Linked DNA regions of Homo sapiens. The protein of the gene in region 4 purifies or fractionates together with the protein of the main gene of each other region. This does not show direct contact. Each region holds a gene or a part of one and is shown on either strand. Other genes may lie near its edges. The genes, in order: CLTRN, TM9SF3, GALNT7 and SLC6A19.

What was found.
Region 1: the proteins of SLC6A19 (region 4) and CLTRN purify together in Homo sapiens (affinity purification with mass spectrometry; one large-scale study listed by BioGRID and IntAct). This does not show direct contact.
Region 2: the proteins of SLC6A19 (region 4) and TM9SF3 purify together in Homo sapiens (affinity purification with mass spectrometry; one large-scale study listed by BioGRID and IntAct). This does not show direct contact.
Region 3: the proteins of SLC6A19 (region 4) and GALNT7 purify together in Homo sapiens (affinity purification with mass spectrometry; one large-scale study listed by BioGRID and IntAct). This does not show direct contact.

What each region holds. Positions count from the first base shown.
Region 1 is NC_000023.11:15,639,513-15,645,312, forward strand, and holds part of CLTRN (collectrin precursor), read right to left. Parts: intron 5,518-5,800; coding exon 5,404-5,517; intron 245-5,403; coding exon 50-244; intron 1-49. UniProt on the Homo sapiens protein: Plays an important role in amino acid transport by acting as binding partner of amino acid transporters SLC6A18 and SLC6A19, regulating their trafficking on the cell surface and their amino acid transporter activity.
Region 2 is NC_000010.11:96,576,043-96,581,842, reverse strand, and holds part of TM9SF3 (transmembrane 9 superfamily member 3 precursor), read left to right. Parts: intron 1-5,013; coding exon 5,014-5,209; intron 5,210-5,800.
Region 3 is NC_000004.12:173,314,430-173,320,229, reverse strand, and holds part of GALNT7 (N-acetylgalactosaminyltransferase 7), read right to left. Parts: intron 2,597-5,800; coding exon 2,498-2,596; intron 1,800-2,497; coding exon 1,671-1,799; intron 1-1,670. UniProt on the Homo sapiens protein: Glycopeptide transferase involved in O-linked oligosaccharide biosynthesis, which catalyzes the transfer of an N-acetyl-D-galactosamine residue to an already glycosylated peptide.
Region 4 is NC_000005.10:1,221,515-1,225,594, reverse strand, and holds the end of SLC6A19 (sodium-dependent neutral amino acid transporter B(0)AT1), read right to left. Parts: intron 3,895-4,080; coding exon 3,691-3,894; 3' UTR 484-3,690; downstream 1-483. Other genes in the region: SLC6A18 (inactive sodium-dependent neutral amino acid transporter B(0)AT3), read right to left, coding at 1-117. UniProt on the Homo sapiens protein: Transporter that mediates resorption of neutral amino acids across the apical membrane of renal and intestinal epithelial cells. This uptake is sodium-dependent and chloride-independent.

The DNA.
Region 1 (5,800 bases), on a different chromosome or scaffold from region 4:
TGAGGAAATAAGAAAATGCTCTTTCAATCACTCCTTTTAAATATCTTACCTTCTACGTTGCCAGATCCCTGATAAAATCAGTAGTGCAATTGCAACTATGATGATGCAAAATATCACACCAAATATAATAATCCAGATGGGCACAGATGGGTCCATGGGTGGTGCAAGTGTGGAAGGGATTTTTAAAAATTCCAGAGTTTGGTCATTTAGAAAGAAGGCATTGTTGATCCGGTTCTTGTTCATTCTAAAATGCAATGATAATTAAAAATAAACAAAATAAGACAGAAAAAAAACTATTAAGACAAAGTACAAACCTGTTTCTCCATGATTATAAATATCTCTATAAACAAAGCATCCTCCTGGCAGGAGACTTCAAGTTGACTAAAAAGTTTGCTGAGGGCAATCATGCCATAGTTTCTCTTAAGTTACAACACTAGCTGCCAGAGGGATACCCATGTATCCACTGCTGCCCCCATTGTTGTGAATGTCCAGAAGTCCTGAGCTTTGAGCTCTGTCCACCATGTTTTATTTCCTGAGAGGTAGTAAGGTAGACGGAGGGACTCGTCTCTGGAGGCAGGGCTCTAACCCTGGACCAAACTGAGGACTAACTAAAACAGAGCTAGGGGGTGGCGGGGAAGCAGCTTTCCATCAGACATGCCCACCAGTGTGCCATGTCAGTTTACCATTGCCATGGCAACACCTGGGAGTTACCACCCCTTTCCATAGCAATGATGTGATGACCCCAAAGTTATTACCCTTCCCTAGAAATTTCTGCATAAACTGCTCCTTAATCTACATGTAATTAAAAGTGGGTATAAATATGACTGCAAAACTGCCCTGAGCTGCTAGTCTCTGCCTACAGGGTAGTCCTGCTCTGCAGGAGCAGTCACAGAGCAGTAACATCACAGGAGCTATAATACTGCCTCTTCAGTAAAGTTGTTTTCTTCTACTTCTGGCTCTCTCTTGAATTTTTTTCCTGGGCAAAGCCCAGAATCCTCATGGGCTAAGCCTCAATTTGGGTTTCACCTGTCCTGTGTGAGTAGCATCTAGATTAGAATGACAAAGCTCTATTTAAGGTGGCTTACATAAATATCACAGCCCCCAAAAGTAAAATTACATGTAAAATATGGGTGATGAATAGGAGAAGTAAAGAAAACCAGAAGCAAAAATGAAAACATGAACCAGGAGTGGCTTCAAATTCACCAACTTGATCTTGATATTTTTTTCATTAATTCAACAAACATTTGCCAAAAACTTATTAAATATCAAATACTGTGCTAGATGCTGGAGATACAACGTGAAATTAAAGTACCAAGGAGCTTACGGTCTAGAAGGGTGACAGATCAGTAGATCCACAACCACAGTGTGGTACAAAATGTTCTGTGAAAGAGGCAAATATGGGCACAGTGTGAGCAGAGGGAAGGGCCAAGTACACCATTGTGAGAAGTCAGAGCTGCTTTGCTGTGGAGGCCATTTTTGAGCTCTGTTTTGAGGGACAAGTAGGAGTTTTTAGACCAAAGTATGTGGTGAGCACAGGAATGGAAACAAGGTAAAGTAAGACTTGTTCAGCAAATTGCAAGTAGTTCCATAGGACTAAAGACATTAATGATTTAGGAGTTCAAAAGCTTAGAAAAATGTTACTTTTCCTAGGAAATATCTGCATTTTTAGTGGTGGTGGCAGTTAAGGAGAGGTTGGTAGCAAAGACTTATTTAATTGAAACCAAATAAGTGAATTTCTAACTGTAAACTGGAGAGTCCTTGGAGATATTTTATGACCTTTACTGAATTCATATTATGCAAGCTGCCTTTGTCTACCTCTAGAGCAGCCCTGGAAAACAGAAATATAATGTGAGCTTCGTGTGACTTAAAATTTTCTAGTAGCTGCACTAAAATAAACAGATGAAACTAATTTTAATAATGTATTTTTTGTCCAATATATCCAAGAAAATGTAATTTCAACATGTAAACAGTATCAAGTTGACTTTGCATGTTTGTTTGTTTGTTTGTTTTTTGAGACAGGAACGATCATGGTTCATTGCAGCCTCAAACTCCTGGGCTCAAGCAATCCTCCTGCATCAACCTCCCAAGTAGCTAGGACCACAGGTGTGTGCCACCACACCTGGCTGTGTGTGTGTGTGTGTGTGTGTGTGTGTGTGTGTGTGTGTAAACAGGGTCTTGCTATATTGCCCAGGCTGGGGCTCCACATTTTATTTTGTACAATGTCTTTGAAATTTGGCTTATGTTTTACACTGTGAGCACACCTGACTTTGAACTAGCCACATTTCAGGTGCTTAATAACCACATTTGGCTGGTGGCTACGGTACCGGACAGTCCAAGTCTACAGCCTGATAGTATGGCTTGAGAATCTCTGCAGGCCAGCACCAGGCTATCAGGAAAGACCCCCTTTAGTAAATAAATAACTATGCTGTGGCATGATTATTCATGGATGTGAAAGTGAACTCTAGCCAGATAATCTACAACAAGGGATTTTTATCCAACAATGGAATATTTTATTTTGTCATAACCTAATATTGAACATCTGAGAGCACAAACTTTTCCACAAAATAATGAAACCCACTGCTAAGATATAACTCAGAGAAAAATGAGAAGTTGCTCTGCATTCTCATTCTATCTTCCTAGTTGGTTAACCCTTTGTTACTTGCTCACTCTAGGCTTGGAATGTATTCTATCATCTCACAGACTGACTGGAAGTTCTAGCTCAGGTACATATTAAATCTGCTCCACCACTGGAATCACCAATTGGCATCAAGCATCATGTATGTCTTTCAGCCAAGAGTGGTATTGAATTAGGCCACGCCCTCACAAAAGAACTAAAACAGACATCTTGGAATTAGTTGGTCACTCCTTTACCTCATACTATGTATACTCTGTATTGGTAAAAAGTCCAGTACTCTTTTTTGCCCATTTCAATTATTTTACTTGAAATGAGAATTTTGTAATTCTCATTCTGTTGGCTATCCCCACTTCCTAAATAGTTTATCCTGCTAGGACCTTTGAAATAGACATTTTGTGAACAAATTCACGTGCTTCCTGGACCTTCACCCTAAGCACTTTGTGTAAAGGAATGACCAACCAATTCTAAGATGTCTGTTTCAGTTCTTTGTGTACTCTGGTAAACAGGAAAAATCACTGGATATGGTGGCAGGATGCCTAGGTTCAAGTCCTCACTTTCTCTTTCTAGCATGGTGGCCTTAACAAATCAATTAATCTCCCTGAGCCTCAGTTTCTTCATTTATAAAGGAGAGATAATAGTAATTACTGAAAAATTATTGGTGTTGGCTGGGTGCAATGGCTCATGCCTGTAATCCCAGCACTTTGGGAGTCTGAGGCAGGAGGATCGCCTGAGGCCAGTTCAAGGGCAGCCTGGGCAACATAGTAAGACCCTGTCTCTACAAAAAAAAAAAAAAATTTAAATTAGCCAGGCATAGTGGCACATCCCTGTAGTCCCAGCTACTCAGGAGGCTGAGACAAGAGGATCACTTGAACCCCAGGAGTTCAAGGCTGCAATGAGCTATTATCATGCTACTGTACTATAGCCTGGGCAACAAAGCCAGACTCTGCCTCTTAAAAAGAAAACAAAAAAAAACTGTTGGTGTCATTATTAAATGCCACAGATGCATAAGAACATTCCTTGTGAACCAAAAAGTGGTATGCAAATATTAGGTGGAACTAGTATTATTTTGCCCAATCACTTAGATTCTTCAGCCTTGAAATTCCTATTATTTGCTCTCTAAACACCATCTCCTTTTTTTCACTCTATCCTTCCTTTGTTGTATAGTTTCCTTTATTTTCATCCAATCCTGATGTGCCCTACTAATTCCCTGACATAAATTCTCATTCTATTGGCTATCCCCACTTCCTAAATAGATTCTCCTGCTAGGACCCTTGAAAAAGACATTTTGTTGTGAACATATTCATGTATTAATACTTCCCAGACCTTCACCCTAAGCACTCACTCTTCCTCCTCCTATCAACTGAAGGACTGGTTTAACCCAGTGCCTTCATTTTCCCTGTAGCCCTCACAGATCACAAGACATGAATAAAATCTTTTTTCACATGAAATATGATATTTATAATTCTTACTCCCTAAGTGGTGAGAGTCTTAACAGTATTCTTAGTGGCCACAGTGAAGAAGCAATTTAGTTCAAACTTTCTTGTTAGGGCAGATTCAACCATTTCCAATCAGTATAAATCCTCAGTGCCTTTGCTTCAGCAAAAGAAATAGATGATGTTCACAAAAACCTTTGACATTTGATTATATACTCATTATCTTAAGTGTTAACATTTTACAGAGAGCTAATGAGTTATTCCAGTAGGTATTTATCCTTGGTAAAAAGAATAATATGTATTTCAGTAACTTGTAAATCTTGTGTGGGGAGAGCTACTTTGCTTTGTTCTAGTTTATTTCCTGAGCTCATTTTTTGAGTATATCTTTGCCCAACATCAATCACATGTGGTATTTGAAGTTTTGACACATACCAAAGGCACAGTAATTGAAAGAAATACAAGTTGCATCCTCCTAATTCTTGAAAGTCTCGAATTCGTTTCACTTTTGAGTTTCTTACGATCATAAGGAGGGGAGGAGTACAACTGTCGGGAAGTCGGGAAAAATTGTAAAATACTTGAAATGGGCAAAACAGAGTACTGGACTTTTTCCTGATTGTCCTGCTGAGAGCACCTTTCTAGGCAATTTCCATCTCTTACGGTCTTTGAGCTACTTTGCAAATCCCTAAGTTCTTGAAAACTAACATAATGTAAATGATTCTTGTCCATAGAAAATCAAATGAACTGTGTCTAGTGGAACATAATTGGTTACTGCCCGAAAAATAGACTGATGCATCCTTCTGTAAATGCATTTTGCCATTCCTCACTTTCTATATATGGGTGGTTCCTTGAAGTCTCCTTGAAAAAGAATTTAACATCTTACTAGTGCCCTCATTAACTAATGAGATAAAATTTTTGATAGTAATAATGATTAGTTTGCATGAGAGTCATGATTTTACCTTTTTTTAAAAAAAATTATCTTTTTAAAGTAAAGACTATATATTGACTGAAAAAGGTAAGCTATTGGGTCCCTAACTTCTGCTTACTCAATGCTGGTGGTACCACCACCCCCTCCAGCTGTGACAATAAAAATGTCTCCAGACATTGCGAAATGTCTCCAGATATTGCCAAATGTCTCCTTGAAGGTAAAATTGCCCCTGGATGAGAACTACTGATCTATACTCATCTCTAACAGAAACTAACAAAATGAAATCTTTGTCATTTTAATAAATAATTCATGTATGAAACAGATAAAACTCTTCAATATCTATTTTTAAAAACAGTTGAATTAATCAGCAAGTTGATTGACTAATAGAAGGCATATTTAAGGGTGATTACCTTATGGCTGATTGCACCTCAACAGCAGGAAGGGTGTGATTTTTTGAAGGGTCTGTAACCACAAACCAGAATGATACCCTCTGGGTTACATTGCAAAGTAGGACATGGGAAATTCTGCAGACAGTGGAAAGAAAAAATACATGAGAAGAATATCATACCAAATGGCATTAAACCGTTCACTCTGATGCTACTACTATCTTAAGAGACATCTTAGCTATGTTTAAAAAGTCATTTCTACCATTATGAAGAATGAGCTCAGTAAGAAGAAAATTATATAGGAAATTCCCATTGTTTCAAAATCATATACTTGGGGATCATTCCTTATAGGGAATAACAGGGAATCTGCCAAAAAATAATAATAGTCAGTGGAGAGCATTAGGGATCTCATTCTCCATCA
Region 2 (5,800 bases), on a different chromosome or scaffold from region 4:
CTACTAGAATCGTTTACTCAGCCTCTGCCTCATAAATAATTTGTATTATATCACGGAGTGATTTCAGAAATGTTTTGTTTGATTTACTTTGGCAAATGGAAACCTTTTGTCTTTGTCTCTGTTGGGAGTATAGGAACTCTTAAAACTTACTGAAAACTTATAAAGAGTATAAGCTGTTTACTATAAGTGAATTTGTGAGTTATCTAATGTAGATTGTTAAATGCCGTAATTCGTTGTCCTATTTTCAGCTCTACTCAATGATAGACTGAAAGTTTATTTAGGTACAAAGCTATTTTTGAGAGAGAGTAGTTATCTCAAGAGACTATTCAAAATTACATTTCTAATTTATTTGTATTAGAATTCTGATGTGTGTTTTAATAATTTAAAGGTTTTGAAATTATGATTTCTGGAACATTATTTTGAAGTAAACACATATATTTTTCCCCCTTTGTATGAAAATGAAGGATAGCATTTGGGTGCTTGTTCTGAACCCTCAGTCCTTTGCTCATCTATGTAAATTGTGATTTCTTATTCAGATTTCACATGACCACGTCAGCATATTATCTTCTAAAGCGTTTCTCCTGATAATAATTAATTCATTACCTCTGTCAAGGAGGAAAACTTTGGTACCCCCCCAACACATAAACAGTATTTAAATAAGAGGGGCCCAACATTGGTGACTTCTTGAGAATAAAGGTCATTCCTTTTGAGATTAGAGTGCAAATAGCTTCTTAGAAGGTTTTTTTTCTTTCAGGCAGATTAAAGGCTCACATAGAAAAGTTATTCAGTGTTCAGGACTGTCTTTAGTTGCTTTGTACACCTGGCACTGTTTTCATATTTCCTTGATTTAGTTTTTTGCTCTTTAATGAATGAAGCTGACTAGGGATTAGCAAAAATACTAACCTTTTAAACTTGATGCTGATTGATTTGGACAAATTACTTAACATCTCTGTTCTTTAGTTTTGTTTTTGTTTTTAGTCTGTAAAATGGGGAAGTAATAGGACCTATTTTATAGAATTTTGAGATGATTATTTAAGTGTTCATATAAAGACCTTAGAACTATACCTAGCTCATAGTATGTATTTATTGTTAGCTACTGATGTTATTATTACAAAAATGGTGAGATCATGTCATGTTAGGGTTTGGTGAGTTAAGGCTTTACTTGAGGATTTGAAAAAGGAGGATTTGAGCATTTCGGAAGGATTATTAGAGTTTGGCTAAGTGGAGAAAAGGAGGGCATTCTAAATTTGGTGGAATGACGAAAGAAGATGAAGTGGGGCCAGGCGCAGTGGCTCACGCCTGTAATCCCAGCACTTTGGGAGGCCGAGGCGGGTGGATCACGAGGTCAGGAGATCGAGACCGTCCTGGCTAACATGGTGAAACCCCGTCTCTACTAAAAAATACAAAAAATTAGCCGGGTGTGGTGGTGGGCGCCTGTAGTCCTAGTTACTCAGGAGGCTGAGGCGGGAGAATGGCGTGAACCTGGGAGGCGGAGCTTTCAGTGAGCCGAGATTGCACCACTGCACTGCAGCCTGGGCGACAGAGCAAGACTCCGTCTCACACACACACACACACACAAAGATGAAGCAGAAAAGGGGAGGAAGACAATATCATAAACCGTTTTGGCCAGCGTGGATGACGTAAGTGTAGCAGTGAGATTCTTCTGAGAGCTGGAAAATAAGTAGGTGAAGAATGCCGGTAGCCTGAATTGGCCTCCTCTCACTTGGCCGTTTCCCAGGGAAGCCTCAGATGAAAGGGATTATTATCGTGCTTAGGGATCCCCTGATACACTGCTGTGCTTCTGTGACTCCACCCCACCTTCTTCTGGGCCTAGCACTCTCTTCCCACAGACTGTGGAGCTCAGGGGCTTTATCAAAGCTTTAGGGAAAGGAAAGATTTTTGTTTGTTTTGTTTTCTCCTTCAGAAGTTGTGTGAAGTCTTTTGGTATTTTTTAATTTCAAAATATTTTAAAACATTTTCTTTTGAGAGAGAACTCTTGATCTTGTCTTGGAAGCACTTATTCTCAGGGACAATCAAGGTCTGCAATGAAAAGTAAACATTTTAAGTTAATTGTATTAAACCACAGTCTGCATAGTAAGGAGCAAAACAAAAGAAAAAAGCATTATTTTTGCCTTGCTATTCACCCTAAACTCTCAGTATGTGTATTTCTAATTACTGTTTCAGTCCTCTTCCCAGAAAGAATCTTAGACTACAAAATGATATAAATTTTATTACAGTACGGGCATCACATCACAACTCTACCACTCTGTTAAGGATTCCTGAATGTTTAAAATGAGTAACTTCGGAATATGTGGTTTAACATCGACTGGGACCCTTAAATTATTTTAGTCCTTATGTTTTAATTTGTATAAAATAAATGGATGCCCTATTTTTAAAGGTATTTATTTTCAAAAATGTTGTCTATTTTTAAAGGAAAAGTATTGGAATTTATAGAAAAAGTATTTTTGTGCTTATTTTCACAAGTTACATTTATAACATTTCTGCAGACTCAGCAGGGTTAATGGCAAGGTGCTCTTTAATAGGTCGTCTCATTCAACATTCTGCTCTTAAATAGATGAATTATGTTACCTCCCCTTATTTTTCTGAAAAGGTACTCTTACAGTCAGGGTACATAGCAGTCATTTCACATACTTCAAACTTCTTTTACCAAGTTGCCAATGAACTTTACATTTCAGCATTTCTTCAGTGTTTTCCCATCATATTTATTAAATATCTATTTGCCTTGGTGAATAGGTTCTTCTTGTGAGACTGAGTCTCGCCCTGTTACCCAGACTGGAGTGCAGTGGCGCAATCTCAGGCTCACTGCAACCTCCACCTCCCAGGTTCAAGTGATTCTCTTGCCTCAGCCTCCCAAGTAGCTGGGATTACAAGGTGTGTGCCACGACACCCTGCTAATATTTGTATTTTAAGTAGAGACAGGGTTTCACCATGTTGGCCAGGCTGATTTCAAACTCCTAACCTTAAGTGATCCGCCTGCTTTGGCGTCCCAAGGTCTTGGGATTACAGGTGTGAGTCACCGTACCCGGCCATGAACAAGTTTTAATTCTAATACCAACTCTCATCAGTTGGTAATGATTGGTTTAGAGCACTGTTTTGAGAACTCTGAGGCAATATCTATGTTCAGCAGAAAGGAGTAACTTGGTTGATTAGTATTGTGTGGCCCATGAGCATTGGATGGAAGAGTGGGGGCATACATATATTTGTCAGTCTCCCCAAATAAAAAGAATAGTAATGAATGGGGATATACTGCTACATTAACATTTAGACCTTTGATTCATTACTTCCTATGTGAAGATTATCTACAGTTGTTTTTCTGAACTCCCTTGAAACAGCTTATGATTTTCCAAATTGTTATTCGTCCTGACCTTCTCTGCCAAAGTGAATTTAATCATTCCTTTATTGTTGCTACAATAGCCCTTTATTACCTTAATTATAATACTTATTTTTTCTTTGTTAATCATTTACTTGTCTGATTCCACTGTGGATTATGAACTTCTTAAGGAAACGACAGTATTTTACTTACTTTTATATTCTTAATACCTAACGCGATACTTGGTACCTGTCACATGTGTTCAAAAGGTGAGATCATTTGTTATTTCCTTAATGACCTGGCTGTTGTCTTATATGAACAGTGAGGCATTTATGTTTGAAAATGAAATGACTGGGTCTAAGTCTTAGGGTGATAATCGTGTGAATCAAAAGAAAAAGGCAGATGTTTTTGGTAAGAACATACAAGTTAATGTTTTTGGGTTCCCTAGAGTGCAGAGAGATTTGGGGTTTGAGTCTCCATGGCTGAGAGAATGGTAGTACCATTAGAAAAATGAAGCTGGGGGAAGTGGATTTGGGTAGATGAGTTTGGTTTTGGAGATGTTAGGTTTTGATTGAAAATATTTATTTATTAACTAGTTTTAGATGGAGGACTGGAGATAAGGATTTCATAGTGGGCCAGTTGGATCACTTCTTCTATTATGTGCCCCATAGCAACCTACCTTATTATTATTGCTTGTTTAATGCCCATCCTTCCCCCAGTAGGACAGGGAACACATCTTGTTCAAAGCTGTATCCTCAGTTATAAACACAGTTGTTTCACATGCTAAGCACTTAGTAAATAATTGTTCAGTGAATTAATGTCTGCACTATTAGTTGATTTAAATGCATCCAATGTTGTCTTTAATTTATACTGCTACTTAGAATTATTAGTTTTAAAATTACCATGGTAATCAGTTTCCATAGAATCATTGGAACTTTAAACTTGTCGAGATCTTAGAAATCTTTGACAGGCCTCCCACTTGTACCTTGGAACTACTCAAAGTCATTACTGACCACACTTCAGATTTAGCCATGTATAATATTCACTGATATGTAGTTCCATAATTACTTATTCAAAGAAATATGCATATAGTGCATGTCTTTCAGGCTGCTAACAAGATAGAATGTTGGCTTGAATGGACTTGTGGAGGTTCTATAGCAGTCTTCTTCCTTGTCCTCTGTAGTACTTTGACCAGTGGCTGTGTGAAAGTCTCGCAAGGAGATGAAATTTTATTTATGCTTGCTGGCAACATTAGGTTTTTTTTTTTTTTTAATTGATTAACATGAGGTTCTGGATAAACTTGATTTTGTTTCCTCCTTCCTTGTCCATGTTAGCATGGTGAATCATGCTGGTTGCAGGTTTGCCACTATTTGATAGTGTAAATGTAAATAATAGACACACTCTTATGAGCTATTGGGCTTAGTTCAAACACTGTCTTCTATAAAACAAGTTTGGAAAAGGTGTATCTGCCTGAGACTACAATCAGAGGATATAATTTTAAAATTCACAAAGTTTCATTTTTAAGATGTGGACATTCATCATCAGATTAAGCTTCCAGTATTTATTTTATAGCTTCCTGAACAGAGATGATGCACTTTTGTTTAGAACACACAACAAATATTCCCTTAATTTGAATTAGTGTGTTTTTTTTTTTTAATTCTTGTTTGCTTTTCTTGTTTCAGTATCAAGATAAAGAGGAAGTTGTCTTATGGATGAATACTGTTGGGCCCTACCATAATCGTCAAGAAACATATAAGTACTTTTCACTTCCATTCTGTGTGGGGTCAAAAAAAAGTATCAGTCATTACCATGAAACTCTGGGAGAAGCACTTCAAGGGGTTGAATTGGAATTTAGTGGTCTGGATATTAAATTTAAAGGTAAGTAAACCTTAATAGTCCTTACAATGCAATTTGGATTGTAGACAAGGGTTTCATATTTTGGCACTATTGACACTGGTGTTGGATAATTCTTTGTTGTATGGAGCTGTTATGTACATGTTAGGATGTCTAGCAGAGTCCCTGGCCTGTACCCCCCAGATGCCAGTAGCACCTTCCAGTTGTGAAAACCAAAAAAGTCACCAGACATTGCTAATTGCTGTCAGTTGAGAACCACTACTTTAGACTCTAAAATGTGTTTTAGTCTGTAAATGAGGTGTATTGCATTTAGGAAAGTATATTAGTAATTAACAAAGATTTCCTTTGAATATTTATAAGATAATAAAATAGATAATTGTTAATAAAATTGTATTTCCTTAACATATTTCCTTCTGAAAAGTGTTGTCTAGTAAACCCCCTATTGATTAGACACATGTGGCCCGGGAAGACCTTCATGGATATTTAACAAAGTAATTTCTGGAGGTCTGAGGCTGTAATGGGATGCGTGGATACTTAAAATTCTTGTGTGACGCCTCAAATTCAAACTTGTACCATAGGCTTAACATGTATTATTTATCAGTGTTGTATTAATTT
Region 3 (5,800 bases), on a different chromosome or scaffold from region 4:
GTAAAGGGAATCCAGAGGACAGAAAGTTTGAGAACTGCTGCTCAAGCTGATCTCGTTGCTTCATCAGTCCATACCTCACGTTTCCAGAATTATTTTCCTAAAAGTAGCCATTGTTTTCCATCACTACCTTCCTCAAATAAGGTCTATCCCTCTCCAAAACTTAAAAAATGAAGTTCGGTGCTCTTTCCTCCAAAGCACAATTGAGGGATACCAAATGAAATACAATTCTTTGAATTTTCTACATGTTTTCATGCCACATCTTTGCTCATCCAGGCTTTCTTATTTACTTTCCATGGAAAGCCTTTTTACACTTCAGGACTTGTGCAATGACACTTCCTCTATGAAACTCCTCAGCAGTAATTCCTCCCATGAATCACTCTTTTCTGTCCTATGGCATTTTGCTTATCTCTATTTTTGCATTTCTTTCTTCTCTGCCATTATATAATAGCGTGCTTTAGCTATATTTTTGAACTCCCCTACAGTCTAACATATTATTGGTCCCCAAGTGAATGTTCAGTAATATCTAACACACAAATGTATATTCAGTGCTGCGTCTTTAAAATACCTAAAACATGTTATGTGTCATTTTTTGTTCAATTACTTCTTGATGTAGTTTCTGGTGTGTTAGCCCTCTTTTACTATTTTGCTAATATTGTTCTCACTGACCCCTACTATTTATTGCTATTATATATCCTTTTTTTTTGTGAAAATAAATGCTCCACTCTTTAAGGTTTATGCTATTCTTCTCCTTCCTAACTTGTTATAAGAAACAAAATCATCAATTGATACGTGCTTATCACTTCCTGGAAATTATCTGTAAATGACAGTAACAGGGAATGTTAAGCTAGGTCATATCATTATTACATAGCAAACAAGTCCTTGCTTGCATGACAGATGGGATATGATAACAAATACTGGGTGAGTAAATAAAATGGAGGGTTGACAGATTTTTTTAGTGTGAGGCAGCTTTCCCCACTTTTTGTTTAATAATAAATTGATTTATGTTAGCCAAATCTAGAATTTGAAAACTATACATAAATCTATTAATATGTTGTAATCCTCAACTTGCCACAGAGCTTTAAATACTCACAGCTGAAACACAAAGCTACCCCAGCAGTGTCACGTGAATAACTAAATTTGACCATTAAAGTAAGCAACTAGCTACATTTATCCCACTGTATTTAGCACACAACAATGATAAAGACGTTATGAAAGCCTAGATTTCAAGTTTTATTTGTTTGTCTCTATCTCCACCTGCTGGACAATATCAAATATTAACCAAATTTTTAATAGTATAAATATATTTAAATATATTTTACTTTAATGAATGATTCATTTACATTTCAAAAATCAGATTTTGATGAGAGCAATGGTGATGACTGCCTCACAGAACACTGACTTTCTTGTATTACTAAAATTAGCAGTGCTCTTTATAGACATCATCGTGGCCTCATTACATGACAATATTGTAAGAGAGAACAAAAGTGATGCCTCATTATAGAACAATGAGTCATCCAGTGCTCAGGAAAACCTATGCAAGGGACTAAATGAGAGGAAAATGCAAGTGAATTTGAATGCAGGTTTTAAGATTTATTTATCTAAATTCCACATGCTAGATGTTACTGAAAATGAAAAGCATATAATATTTCAGAAGTTAAAATGCAGAATACCTTGAAGTACTGCCATTCCTTAAATTCATTTAGATTACAGTGTGTAATCATAACTTTTGATCCATCAGCTCCCTTTGTCAAACACTGGTCATACTGCATGAGTTGATTTGCTTCATTGATTCTGAAAAGCTGTAAAAGGAAAAGAGAGAATTAAGTAACAGAGGCACCTTCCCTGCTGATGTGCATTTGAAAAGAAAGAAACTTAACTCCTATAATTAAATTGAATGACTAACTTATTTTTCCATAATTTTGTTTAGAACTGTAAGTCCACAGACAAATTATATTTATTTTGATGTTAGTGAAGATCCTTATTAACACTGAAATCATTAAGTTCTTTAGTCTCTAAGATACCAAATGGGTCACTAACACAAATTTATTAAGTACCAACAATGTGAAAAAATGAAAAAGCAAAAACATACCCACATAAGTAAGAGAATATATATTAGTGAAATATACATTACTGGCAGTAACACTCTATTTGCAAAAAGATGAGGATTAGTGAGCAATACTTGCAAAAAATTGTTAGGGAGCTAGGCTTACATAGTTACGGTAGTGACAAATATATACTCCCACAGGAATATATTTTAATCCCTTATATTAGACATTAATTCTAGATTCTGACTGCTTATGTGAAAACCAATACTGCTATTATTCCCATCATTTAAGTGAATGTTTTAACACTGTCAATTTTTTTACAGAATGTTTTACTTTATCAAAACAAACAAAATTACCAAATCGAAAACCAAAGTACAAAGATCACTCTGTGATCAATAAACCTGATGGCCCTCAATACGGAACAACTTAAACACAAAAGTAAGGTGGTTTACCTGATTCCCTCCCATCCTGTGGCAGGGTCCTAGTTCAACAAAGCCTCCATTTGTTTTTCCCATGCTATCAATGCAGTAAGCAGTTTCGAAGCCTCTGATCTAAAAAAATGAATAAAGACGCAAAAAGCAGGCAACAGTTTAGTTTTTGATGAACTCTGGCATCAGAATTTAACATTTCATGTTAAATATTACAGTTTACAGGGAAAATCTGGGTATGTGTAGTGACAGGTTATTACTGGATTGTCAATCTTTACATAGTTTTGAAATAACTTATGGTCTTGAAGTCAACACTGGAATGGGTTCTTTCTCTAAGAGCAAAGGACTATACATTTCCGTAAAATACCACAGAGAAAAAAAAAGTTACCATTAATTGCAATTTCAGAATCACAGTAATTCATGTGAATGAGAAGCAAATAGAGAACCTAACCACAGTGGTAATAAACACTGGCCTGGCCCTAGATATCTAGAACAGACTGGATTTGTAAGGGACCTCTCCCAAATGGCTATGCAGCACTTTTGGTAGCTGCCTGTAGGGGTCTAGGGTGCATAGGCCATGCATGGCACATGACCAGGCAGTGAGGCTTTTCTCTATAAACGTAGATGAAAAGCAAACACAGGTTTCCATCTTTGGAATGTACATTTTGTATGAAAAGAACTATTTTTGGAAAAGCCATTTATTTCTCTGAATTATAAATCGCTATACTATTTGGATAAAATGTTTTATTCTTGCATTCAGTCAGCAAATATGGACTGTGCACCTATAATGATAACAGGTTTTGAGGATATGAAGAGGTGCAAGTCATGGTCCTCACCGCCTGTAGAGAGACAGAGGGGTAGTGGACCAGTCAGGACAGAGGTGTGAATGTACAGAGGAAGAGCTGCTCACCCTGCCTGGAGGAGCTCCAAAGACTGCCCCAAGAGACACCTTTAAAACAGGTAGGGGTTTACCCTGGAATGTTAAGGAAATGCCGAGAAATGAAGTATAAAGTGCAGATGTCAGAATGGGAAGAGGTTAAACTGAAGATATACTTGGGAGTGAGACAGTAAAAGGAGGACAGAAAATTCCATTTATTCATTCATGTATTTATTCAATCATCAAATATTAAGTACCTGATGTGTGCCAGGCATGTTGTAGGCTCTGAAACACTAGTGAACAAAATAAAGACACCTACCCCAGTAATGGGCATGCCACAGTGAATGTGGGCCCCTGCCTCCATTCACTCTGGGAATGTAAGGGAAAAAAGACAGAATATAAGTTAAAAAACATAGTAGACAATTTGTCTGTTATGGCAAAAGGTGATAAGTGTGGTGAAAAAAAGGAAAAGAAGAGGAAGTTAGGGTGGGAGCTAGGGCGTTGGGAAGTAACAAGGTGGACCTCACTGAGAAGTGGTAGGTCAGCAGACTTGAAGGAGGTGTGAGAGCTGGCCATGCATGCGTGTATCTGCAAGGAAGCATTCCTGGCAGAGGGAACAGCACAGGCAGGCACATGCCTGGAGGGAGTCTGAGGACCAGTAAGGACATGGGGCTGGAGTGGAGTGGGGAGAGCAGTAGCAGGTGAGGCCAGAGAGGAATGGGGACAGATGTTGTGGATCTTGGAGACTACCAGAAAGGACTTTGTCTTCACTCATAGGTGAAGGTGCAGGGTTTCTAGCAGAAGAAGGACATGATTTGCCTTTATTTTAAAACAGTCACTCTGACTGCTGTATTTGAAATAGGCTGTAGGAGAGTCAACAAGTTAGTCTCAGTGAGAGATGATGGTGGCTTAGACCAGGCAACAAGGGATCAGATTCTGGAACTAGATATGAAGTGCGAGACAAAGACAGGATTCATGGAAGACTCCAAAGTTTTTGACCAAGAAATCAGCAAAGATGGGTTGGGGGGAGGAGATAGGAAGTTCAATTTAGGCTATGTCGAGTTTGAAATGCCTGTTACACATTCAAGTCCTGATGTTAAGCATACAGTTGGATATACTTGTCTGGGCCCTCAGAGAGAGATCTGTGTGTTGAAAGGCTTATGGTCTAGTTGGAGTTAAACATAATTTGCTGTAATAGGACAGGTAAAATAAGAGTATAGGGAAAAAGTATATTAAAGCAAGAAGTACAGAGAGAGCAGCATGAGTGTCCTCTGTTGGTTTTTCCTTCTATTCCTGAACTCTAAATGCTGGCGTTTCTGACGGATGGGTCTAGTCTTCTCTTCTCTATCTGTGTTTTCTCCCTCGGGGACCTCATTCAGTCCCATGAAACGACCTACCTGCTGATGGCCCCAAATGCACATCTCCAGAGTGGCCTCTCTTCTGGACTTTGGCATCATACAACCTACAATCTATGATCAGTAGGCCTTAATGGCTCTACCTGGACGCCTAGCAGGTACTTCACATGCCCAGAACACCAACAGAAGCCTTGCCCCCTCCATTCACTCCCCTACTATCTTCCCAATCTCAGCAGCCACCTAATCAGCTACTCAAAACAACCTCGATGTCATTCTGGCCCTTATCCCTTCACACACCAACCCATAAGGAATCCACTCCCAGATGAACTATGCTTCCGCAGTTGGTCAGCTTCCCTTCATCTCCACTCTCTGATTGGCTGACTCTTTATCATTCAGATCTGAGAGCGAATGTCACCTCCTCAGAGAGGCTTTCCTTACCCTGCCCTTAAGTCCTCTTGACAGTATTATGTGTCATTATCATTTATCACCATCTGTCATTATCATTTTTGTTTTCTCAGACTTTTTTGGTCTCTCTCCCCAGGTAGCATGCCAGTTCCCTGAGAAAAACGACTTTGCTTCTCTGGTTTTCTGTCTAGAAGAGTGACTGGCACATAGTAGGCCCTCAACCAATATTTGCTGAACATAATTAAGCAGAGGGATGTAGACTTGAACGTTCATGGCAGGTTTAGTGTACCTGTGAGGCATACAGCGGGGCTGCAGGGAGCAATCAGAAGTGAGTCTGAAGACAAGTTTGAATAAACAAAGAAATGACAATGTCTGATTGTCAAAGTGCTTTTGTCTGATTTTAATTATTTTTAATTCATTTGAAAAGCATTGTTGGAGTATCTACTGTATATGGGTCCCTGCATCAGTCCACCTGGACACAAGTGATCAAGGTCCTGAAGCACTCAGACTGGTTGGGAGATAGGTGATTTTGGGTGTTGTGAGAACCCCTGGAAAGAACATAGAACTGCATCTTTTTGATGAAGTGGGGAATAGTAAGAAGGGCTTTTCAGTATTGGTGATCTCTAAGTTGAGAGCAGTAAGATAAATTGAAATTAGTTAAGGAAGGGAGTTGGAGTAAGAGGCATGGAG
Region 4 (4,080 bases):
CCCCAGTCCCACGGCAAACCCAGTGCAGCTCAGGAGGTACTGGGCCTTGTTGTCCCACTTGGGCCTCTCATCCCCGAGGTCGCAGGCGGCCGGGTCCGGTTCTGGGGCATGAGCCATGGTGACTGAGTGCCCCAGGCTTCAGGGCAAGGGTGGTGCCTCACTCCACACCCAGCACTAGAGAGCCGTCTCCAGCCTCTGCCGACGTTTGGAAACCACAAGCAGCCCCACTGCAGTTGTATTTATTCATTTCTTTAAAGGAAAACCAGTGGAGTGCCGTTAATGGGTAACTCAGGTCCAGGCCCTGGCTCTGACGCCAGGGTCCTTCCCTGGCACCCACGTCCTCTGCTCCTTCTCGCATGCTCTGTGTTCCAGGCAAACGCCGGGCCTGGCACCACCCCCAGCACCATGAGGACCGTTTGCAAGGACAGCCTCAAGTTTTTTTGTTGCAGACACCAGGATTCCCAAGACTGAGGCATATTTTAATCGTTTTAAATTTCTTATGTTTTATTTAACCATTTGATCTTGAGATACTTATAGATTGTCACTCTGTCACTGTCAGAAACAACTCAGATCAGATCGCATGCACCCGAAGCCCGGATTCCCGCAGGGATCCTCTCAGCTGCTCTTGGGAGGCCGGGGGCTGCCCTCACACCCACTGCTGCCCTCGGGCCGCTGGGCAGGACAGGGTGACAGGCACCCACCGTGCGTGGGGGCAGAGGGCTGAGTCCTCTCCTGTGCTGGGGGCACCCCTGTCCATGGGTGGAGGGTTGATGAGTTGACGCCGGGTGAGTTCAGCTCTAAGGAGCTCCCCACAGTGCTCCCTGGACTCTGGGGCTCCTCCTTGCAGATGCTCCCGCCACGGACAGGCCAAGGGCCCCCAGGCCCGCAATTGCCCCATTCCACTGGACACTGCACCCCTCAACCGTGTGGCCACAACTCCAAATCCATGAGTCCCAGGGCAGGGGCCCAGGTGGACACATTTTTGGAAGGTTCTTATTTGAGTGAGAGGAAGTGTGAGGGAAGAAGATGAGAAGAGCTGGTTGGTCCCCATTGTGAGGCCACAGGCCTGGGCCATGGCCTCTTCGGAGCAAGCCCCCAAAGCCAGACCCCCCAGGAGGAGGCAGGAGCTGGACCTGCCGTCCCCACCATCCCGTCTGAGGTCACTGGCTCACTCATCCCTCTACGTCTGGACAACAGTAACTTCTAGGGTGAGCATACTCAATAGAAGGGATTTATTTAGAAATGTACACTTTATGCCCATAAAGCCTGCATTTCTACCACATTTACAGAGACATTGAAACCTATGAAACAACGCATGAATCAGGAGATGTAGATGAGATGGGAGCTCCCGCCCAGGGTCCTATGGCAGGCACACCAGGGTACACCAATGGATGCCAGGGCACATCAGTGCACACCTGTGCATGCCAGGGTACACCAATGCACACCTGTGCACGCCTGGCAGGGCCTCCTGGGCAGATGCCACAGGGCAGCATATTAATGGGGCACTGATGGAAATTTTCTCGATCCAGGGCCAAAGAGCAGGAAAAGATGAGGTGAGACCCTGTTGAAGCCATCAGCAGGCGAGCCCCTCGGTGGCATCACAGCCGGGGGCAGAGGCTGTGATATGTCCCCCCACCTCTGCTGCTGTGGAGTCTTGCGCATCCCAGGGCCCAGTGACAGTCAGCAGGGTGAAAGGGGCTGGTAGGGGACTCAGTGTGTGCAGTCACTGCTGGATGGGGTGCTGGAAGGGACGATTGTGACCAGGTTTCTGTGGGTGGAACATCATACTGGCACACACCAGGCTTTCAGTCCTGCCTGTAGGAATTCTCAGAACATCAGTTTAATGTAAGCGTCCAGATTCTTCTATGGAAAGCAGAGGTGACCTGTCCGTAGGAACTCTCAGAACACCAGTTTAATGTAAGCATCCAGATTCTTCCATGCAAAGCGGAGGTGACCTGTCCGTAGGAACTCTCAGAACACCAGTTTAATGTAAGCATCCAGATTCTTCCGTGCAAAGCGGAGGTGACCTGTCCGTGGAAGCAGATGTCCCAAGTGCCGACTGCCTTTGGCTGCGATGGAATGTTGAACCCCAATGGGGGCCCATCCCGTGACGGGGGCAGGGCAGGCGCCAGGCTGGGCTTCACTGAGTGGTGCGGGAGCTGGAAGCTTCTGGGGGCTGCACGGTCCTCCAAGGTGCCCTGGACACACACAGTGCCCAAGGATGGCAGCCAGGGTTGAGTTACCCTGTAACCCATCTTTTCCAAAGGCTGGCTAAAAATTCACACAGCTCATGTCCTCTTAAGAAAATGCACAGAGTGGTATTTGCCTTGAATTATGCCAAGTTGAGTTTTATTTAACTGCTCATCTATTTGTGGTGGCAGGAGCAATGATTAAATGGCTGGCATTCATTAAGCCGGGAAGCGGCCAGAACGCAGAGACTCGGCAGCGGCCGACTGGAGGCAGGGCCCCGGTGGATGCGGCCAAGTTTTCTCAGAATCGCCAGCAACTGCCCACTCCGGCTTCCGAGAGGCTGCTCCGGGTCGAGGGCTACAGGGCTCTGGGAACCCCCAGGTCAAAGGTCAACACCAAGGGGAAGGGGATGGGTGGGGGTGGGTAGCAAGAGTCGCTCCCAGGAGCCAAGATAGTACCCTGTGCTTTTGTCTCCTGCCACCCACAGAGATGAAGCATAGAGGTGCTGCCCCCACCCCAGCTGCAGCTTCCGCTTCCCCCGGGCACGTGCAGGGCACAGCACGTCCCCAGTGGTCTGCTCCCCTCTGCACATGCACCCCGTGACTGTGGCAAGGACAAACACAGAGGGCAGCTGGGCCCCGAGTGGCAGGCATGTGTCCCAGCGACGTGTACGCACACATATCCACACGTGTCCATATGTGTGTCCATATGTGTCCATATGCGTGTCCATGCGTGTCCATATGCGCACATACATACACACTGGCATGCACAAATGCACACCTGCCTGAATATGCACACACACGAGCACACATCACACACATATACACAAACAGGTACAGACACACACATATACACAACACACGTATACACACACGTACACATGCTCACATATACACACGTCACACAGGCATACATGTACATATACACATGTGCATATATACTTGCAAACGCACACACAGAACACACATACACACAATTGCATGCATGTATATACACTCACAGATATACATATACACGTGCATGTGGACACCCATTGTACGAGCACATGTGCATGCATGTATACACGTGTGTGTTCACACATATGCACACCACACACAACATAGGCATGTATGTCTATATATACATGCACACACACGGGCAGCAAATATCGCACACATGTATATGCATGCACACTTGCACACTCACACAATGTCCATACATGTACATGCACACACACAACATGACACATCTGCACACATGGCACATGCACATACAATACACACACCCACACACATGTATATGTGTGCATACACGTGCACACTCACACAGTGCCCATGCATGTACATGCACACACGATACATATCTGCACACATGGCACATGCGTGTACAATACACACACTCACACACGAGCATACACTCACGCTTACACACATGCAGGTGCAGCCCGGCCCCCACCCCACAGGTCTTGCTGGTTCCTCCTTCCCTGACACCAGTGTATGGCACGCCGTGGGATGGGCCTTCTCAGTACTTCAGGTCCCCGTTCATGGAGGCTGTGGACAGTGTGCTCACCAGCCCCTGATGGTCCCCTGGCTTCTGGCAGTGGTTCCTGATGAGCTTGTAGATGGCATAGCCAGGGATGGTGAGGGAGGGCACTCCAGCCACAATCACCACCACCACATACACCCAGTTCGGGTAGGAGATCTTCTGGGATTTGGGAAATTCCTCCTGGGGAGAGAGCCCCATGGGTGAGTAGGCATCCCGGGAGCCAGTGGGGTTCACTTTGAGGCAAAGGCCCCTCACCCCATGACTCTCACCTCCTGTCCTGTGGGGCAGGCAGGGTGGCCTGGGGCTCCTCCAGCTTCCCCTTTCCCCTACCTCCCAACTCCCAGCCCACCCACCTCCCTCCTGGGA